Linked DNA regions of Homo sapiens: region 1 is linked to region 2. The links come from fine-mapping of genetic effects on gene expression. A gene starts in region 2. The other region holds a variant in brackets. All regions are shown on one strand. Distances are from middle to middle.

Region 1 (2,794 bases), 290 kb before region 2:
TCTGCCTTATAGAGTTAGGGCACATTCCCACCCTAGTAGGAGAAGACTGGACAGCGTTGAGTGCCCACCTTGAGCCCTGCCCTGAGAGGGAGGACAGAGAAGGCCACAGGAAGCTTGGGAAATAGTAATTGCGTCTCCAGGGCTATCTCTGTGAAGGGGAGGGTGAGGGGCACAGGTGATATCCCTTAGGGTTCTGAGAAGGGGCCTCTGGAGGCTGTGTGGTGTGGTGAGAAGAGCTCCCTGCCGCTCCCAGATAAGCTGGGCAAATTTGGACAAGTTGCTTCCCCTGAGCCTGGGCATCCTCCTTTATGAAATGAGCTGAGGTATGTGAGGCCTGGCGTGGAGGAGCAGGGTGTCACTATTGGTAGCAGTTGTTAACTATGGTATGAGCTGGATGGTCTGGGACCATTCAGGAGGAGTTGTGTTTAGACTGCAGGTAAATGGACAGGAGGGAGGGTCTTCCAGTGGGGATGGCATGGTCCGGAGAATGCTGTCGTCAAGACTTAGAGGGTGAAACTGAGCACTTCCGTAGGGTGACAGTGGGGCCAGGTGGAGCCGTTCAGACCGAGGGAAAGGCTCGTGCAGGGACAGTGGGGAATGAGGCTGTCCTCAAAGGGGGCAGATGATGACAGCAGGTGTAAATCGTGAGAGGCTTGATTTGGGAGGCACTGGGAACCTTTGAAGGATTTCCAAGCCGGAAGGTGCTGTGATGTAGGAGGTGATTTCGGAACACAGCCCTAGAGGAAGATTAGATTGAGAAGAGGTTCAGGGGCCCCAAGAAAGGAAAATCAGTTCAGAGACTGCTGCTGAAAGTCCCGGCATGAGATGAGAGCATCAGCTGGGTCCAGGGTAGGGAAGGGGGAGGAGCGGGGTGTCTGTGGCAGCATGAGTGTATGAGTGTGGGGCTCCACCAGGCAGTGCTCCTGCTCCTCTCCTGGCCTCCTGAGTCAGATCTCAGGACAGCAGCCAGAGTGATCCTGACAACATAAGTCAGATCATGCCCTGGCCCTGCCCTCCAGCCTGTACTGGCTCCCTGCACCCTTGGAACAAATGCCAAGCCCCTCTGCACGGCCTGCAGGGCCCCCACCCCTACCCCTCTGACCTGCATTCCTGCCCTCCCCTCCCCCTGCACTCTACTCCAGCTGTGGCGTTTTCTTTTTTCTTTTTTTTTTTTTTTGAGATGGAGTCTCCCTCTGTCGCTCAGGCTGGAGTACAGTGGCGTGATCTCGGCTCACTGCAAGCTCTGCCTCCCGGGCAGCTGTGGCGTTTTCTTTTCTTTCTTTTTTTTTTGAGATGGAGTCTCTCTGTCGCCCAGGCTGGAGTGCAGTGGCGCAATCTCAGCTCACTGCAAGCTCCGCCTCCCAGTTCACGCCATTCTCCTGCCTCAGCCTCCCAAGTAGCTGGGACTACAGGTGCCTGCCACCACGCCTGGCTAATTTTTTGTATTTTTAGTAGAGACAGGGTTTCACCATGTTAGCCAGGATGGTCTCGATCTCCCGACCTCGTGATCCGCCCGCCTTGGCATCCCAAAGTGCTGGGATTACAGGCGTGAGCCACCGCGCCTGGCCTGTGTGCTGTTTTCTGAAGTGCTGGCGTAGTCCTATCTCG[G/A]AGATGAGACTTTGCAGCGGCTGTTCCCCTTGCCTGGAGTGTGCCTCCAGGGATCCTCTGGGCTCACTCGCTCTTCATGCAGGCCTCTGCTCAGATTCCTTCTGCCCAGAGGTCTTCCCTGACCATCTTACCTGACAGATCACCCCCATCCCTCTCAGCTTCTACCCAGCTTTATCTCCATAGCTTTATCAATACCTGAAATTACAGTCTAGATTTATGGGTTATGTCTTGTCTCTCTTCCCCATTAGAACCTAAGCTCCATGAGGGTAGGGACTTTGTCTGGTTCAGTGCTGGCCCCAGGACAGCGCCTGGCACACAGGAGGCACTCAGTAAACATTTGTGGCATGAATGAATGAAATAGAGGCTAAGGAGGTGGGCATTTGGGCTCAGGCCTTAGCAAATTGCTTCTCCAGCTGAGATCTCCGGTGTCAATGGGGGGATTAGATGAGGTGATTGTGGGGCCCTTGGAGGTGTGATGCCTCCTGACTCTACTACTGAGTTGGTGCTTCCAAGGAGTGTCAGCAAAGCTTGGCAGACTCTCCAGGCCTGCCTCTGCTCATATCCCCAGGCTGGGCTTACCGGGGTGGCAGGGCACAGGGATGAGGAGGGCTGACCTGGGCAACCCCTCCCTCCTGAGGCCCTCCACTGTCCCTCTGCAGCCACGAGGCCCCCTGGTGGCTGCCACACTGATGAGTTCCAGTGCCGGCTGGATGGACTATGCATCCCCCTGCGGTGGCGCTGCGATGGGGACACTGACTGCATGGACTCCAGCGATGAGAAGAGCTGTGAGGGAGTGACCCACGTCTGCGATCCCAGTGTCAAGTTTGGCTGCAAGGACTCAGGTGAAGAGGATGGTTGGAGGGCGTCTGGAACAGCACAATGTGGGCAGGAGGAGACCGTGTTGAGAGCAGAGTAGCGGCAAAGGGGATGGCACTGTGCTGTGTGGAGTGGTGCTGGGGACAGTGCAAGGCAAAAGGCAGTCCAGAGGAAGCTTGTGTGTCATGGGTGGGGGAAGGCATGAAGGGCCAGAGCCTGCACAGAGGACCTGAGAAGCCAAAACCCTACCAGAGTTGAGCTTCAGCACCTCCTGCTGCAGATTCCTGCCTTGTTTGTTGCCTATGTGAATTTGACCCAAAAAGCCTCGGGGTTCCTCGTGGACCCCACAGCGTTGCAATCCTGACCCTAT
Region 2 (2,794 bases):
TGACTTTTAAGAGTATAGAGGAAACCAAAAAGTTTGAGACTCACTGGTCTATAGAACTGGGTGGGGAGAAGAAAGTAAGGTGTTCTAAGAGAGCTCTTCTTGCTGGGCACCGGTGGTCCCAGCTACTTAGGAGGCTAAGGCCGGAAGACCGCTTAAACCCAGGAGTTCGAGGCTATGATCACACTTGTGAATAGCCTCTGCACTCCAGCCTGGGCAAATAGTGAGGCCCCGTCCCAAATAAAAATAAATAAATACATAAATACATAAATAGCTCCTCTGGAAGAAGGGGCTCGAGGCTGGGACAGGAGCATGTGTGGGGTGCCTTTTTTTCAGTGCCCATTAGTCTGGTCTGACTGAGCTGGGTCTCTGACCCTCTGGGGATAACTAGCCTGGGTCAAAGTCCCAGATCTCCCCCTACCTTCACCTTTTCTTTTCCCCCTTGACCCTCAGACTGAACAGTTAACCCACTGACCTTCCACACCCAAGGGGGTGGTTCTTGGAAGCAGAGCTAGGATGTGGGAGGTCTGCCTGTGGGGTTGAAAAAAAGGGGAGAGGGTGCCCTTTTTCCTTGTCATGCTTCCTCCTCTTTCTCATAAAAATCAGAGACTGAAATGCTGCCCCTCCCTTATATCCGGTCACGATGGCAATGCAAATCTAAAGAGGCAGGGCACTTCCCTGTCAGGCAGTACCGCTGGGCATAGCAACCTCTGCCTCTCCGTTTCTCAGAGCTCACATATCCACCTCCTGGGCTTTTAAGTGGGCTTTAGTGAGGGGCTCCTCCTTCAACTGGGCTCCTCCTTCAGTTCCCCAGCTCTTCTGCTTCGACTCCGAGCGGGTGTCATGTGTGAGAACGGCCAGCAGAGGGAGCAGAAAGCCTGGAAGAGCAGCTAGAGCCTGCAGTGACGTGGTGCGGAGGGGCGGCACCCTCCAGAACTTCGAGACGTAGAGCCGGGGTTCTAGGGAAAGGGGCTTCAGTCCCAGGGCTCCTTGGTGACCTCGTGAACCACACCCTGCACCCAGAGCCTCAGCCGCTGCTCCTTGCTTTTATGCTCCATAGACTCCTCACCTTCTTCCAGAGCCCCCAACCCAACTTGATTTGCCCCAAACCGCAACTCTGTCCCGGCCGCTGCAAGTTCCATCCAAAGGGTGAGGCCTGCAGATAAACCACAGGATGGCAGAATGCTCAGTTAGCACCAACCAAAGGCGACTACCCTACCTCCACTATTATCGTTCTCGGTTGAACTTCTCCCCCTGCCCCGCAATATTTTCCTCAATCTGGTTGTCGGGGCCTCTTTGGGGCCAGCCGATCCAGAAATCCAAGCCGGGATTTAGTACTCACCAACAGCAGCGTGTTCAGCCGGGGCGGGGGGGGGGGCGTAAGCAGTATAGGGTCCCTCAAGGGAGGGGGAGGATCCTGGGGGTCCTGGGGGTGCAATAAGCCCGGCACCCCTTCTCTTGCTTCCAGCTACCCCGCCTCATCCTCCAGAACGGCAAGAGGGAGGGAAATAGAAGGGAGGTGAGGGGCGAGCGGGAAGAGCGGCGGCGCGCCAGCGGCTGGAGAGAGAAAAAGTTTTTGCAAAAGGGAAAAAAAAAGTTTGCGCTTCTCGCGGGTGGTCCGGGCTTGCGGCCCGGCGGGCTGGGCCGGCGGGAGGGCTGGGGGCCAGGTTGGGGGGGTGGGGGTGGCATCGAGGCTGCGCTGCCGTGGCCCTCTCCGCCCCCCCTCCCCACCGCACACCCCCCAGCCCAGACTCCAGCCCTGGACCGCGCATCCCGAGCCCAGCGCCCAGACAGAGGTGAGAAGGGGGGGCAGGCGGGGGACCACCTGGGAGCAGTGGGGGAGGGGGCCTGAGGGGATGCTCAGCTTCTTAGGGACTCATCCCAGACCCGGGACATAGAGGCAAAATAGGGGTGGGAGAGCCTGGGGTGAGACATTAGAAACTCCAGATTTTTCACTTGTGTCTTTCTCTGTATCTTCTTTTTCTTCCCTTTTTTTCTTCTGTCAGTCTGTGTATCTCTGTCTCAGGGAACCGTGGGTCTTTGTCTCCGCCTCTCCCATATATTAGAAATATCTTACTTTCATGCGGTTAAGTTTAAGAGGCTGGAGGGATGGCTAGCTGGAGGTCTGCGTTGTAGAGAGGTAACCCCAGGTGTGTGTCTGCGCGTGGGGTAGGAAGATGTCAGTGTTTCTGAAAGGTGGGGACTGCAAAGGAGGGAGCTCCAGGTGGGGTGGGGACGGGTGTGTGGGAGGCAACAGAGCCACTAGGGGCCAGCCAGGCTTGAACCTTTGACCTGTCTTGTGACAGATGTGCCAGTGGATGCTTGTGCTTTAGGGGAAAGGAGTGTCTTCTGGACTTGGAAGGGGGCTGGGGCGGGGGGGGGCTGTCCAAGGTCTAGTGAAGGCCCTAGAATGACCCCATGCAATTTGGACTCCTGAGTCCCAAGGGCTGTGGGCAAGGAGCTCAGGAGGAGCCGGGGAGACCTTGTCTTGACCCTCTGACCTCAGGACCACCGGGGCAGCGGGAGCCAGCCGCAGGGAGACCCCTACCGGGGCTGGGCGGGACCACTGGCCACTGCCAGCCTGTGTATCCCCGTTGGCACCCCGCCCAAACGGGAGCTGGGGATCGAGGCCCCTCCTCTGGCTCAGACCACCCTGCCTGCCCTTGCTCCCCGCTCTGAATCCTCTTTCAGGTCCCATGACCCCGAAACAATCAGCACTGGGCAGCTAGCTTTCGGGACAGGATTACGGAAAGGGGACCCCGTAGAGCCTGGGGACTGAGGGTTTTAGGGGTCTGGA

Evidence for each region. PIP is the estimated chance that this variant, and not a neighbour inherited with it, causes the effect. A credible set is the group of variants that fine-mapping cannot tell apart.
Region 1: its variant is the best candidate, but not a certain one, in a credible set for the expression of GLI1 in blood mononuclear cells (TOPMed, PIP 0.55).

What each region holds. Positions count from the first base shown.
Region 1 is chr12:57,170,901-57,173,694 of GRCh38, forward strand. LRP1 (LDL receptor related protein 1) reads left to right here. Exons shown (of 89, transcript NM_002332.3): 21 at 2,268-2,450. Among named protein-coding and RNA genes, the nearest start is that of MIR1228, 22 kb to the right of the region's middle. RefSeq lists a silencer at 2,218-2,431. The variant G/A (reference allele first, on the strand shown) is at 1,609.
Region 2 is chr12:57,458,409-57,461,202 of GRCh38, forward strand. It overlaps GLI1 (GLI family zinc finger 1), which reads left to right and starts at 1,377. Exons shown (of 12, transcript NM_005269.3): 1 at 1,377-1,793. It overlaps LOC124902947 (a long non-coding RNA gene), which reads right to left. Exons shown (of 2, transcript XR_007063335.1): 2 at 1-1,153. RefSeq lists enhancers at 966-1,045, 1,056-1,105.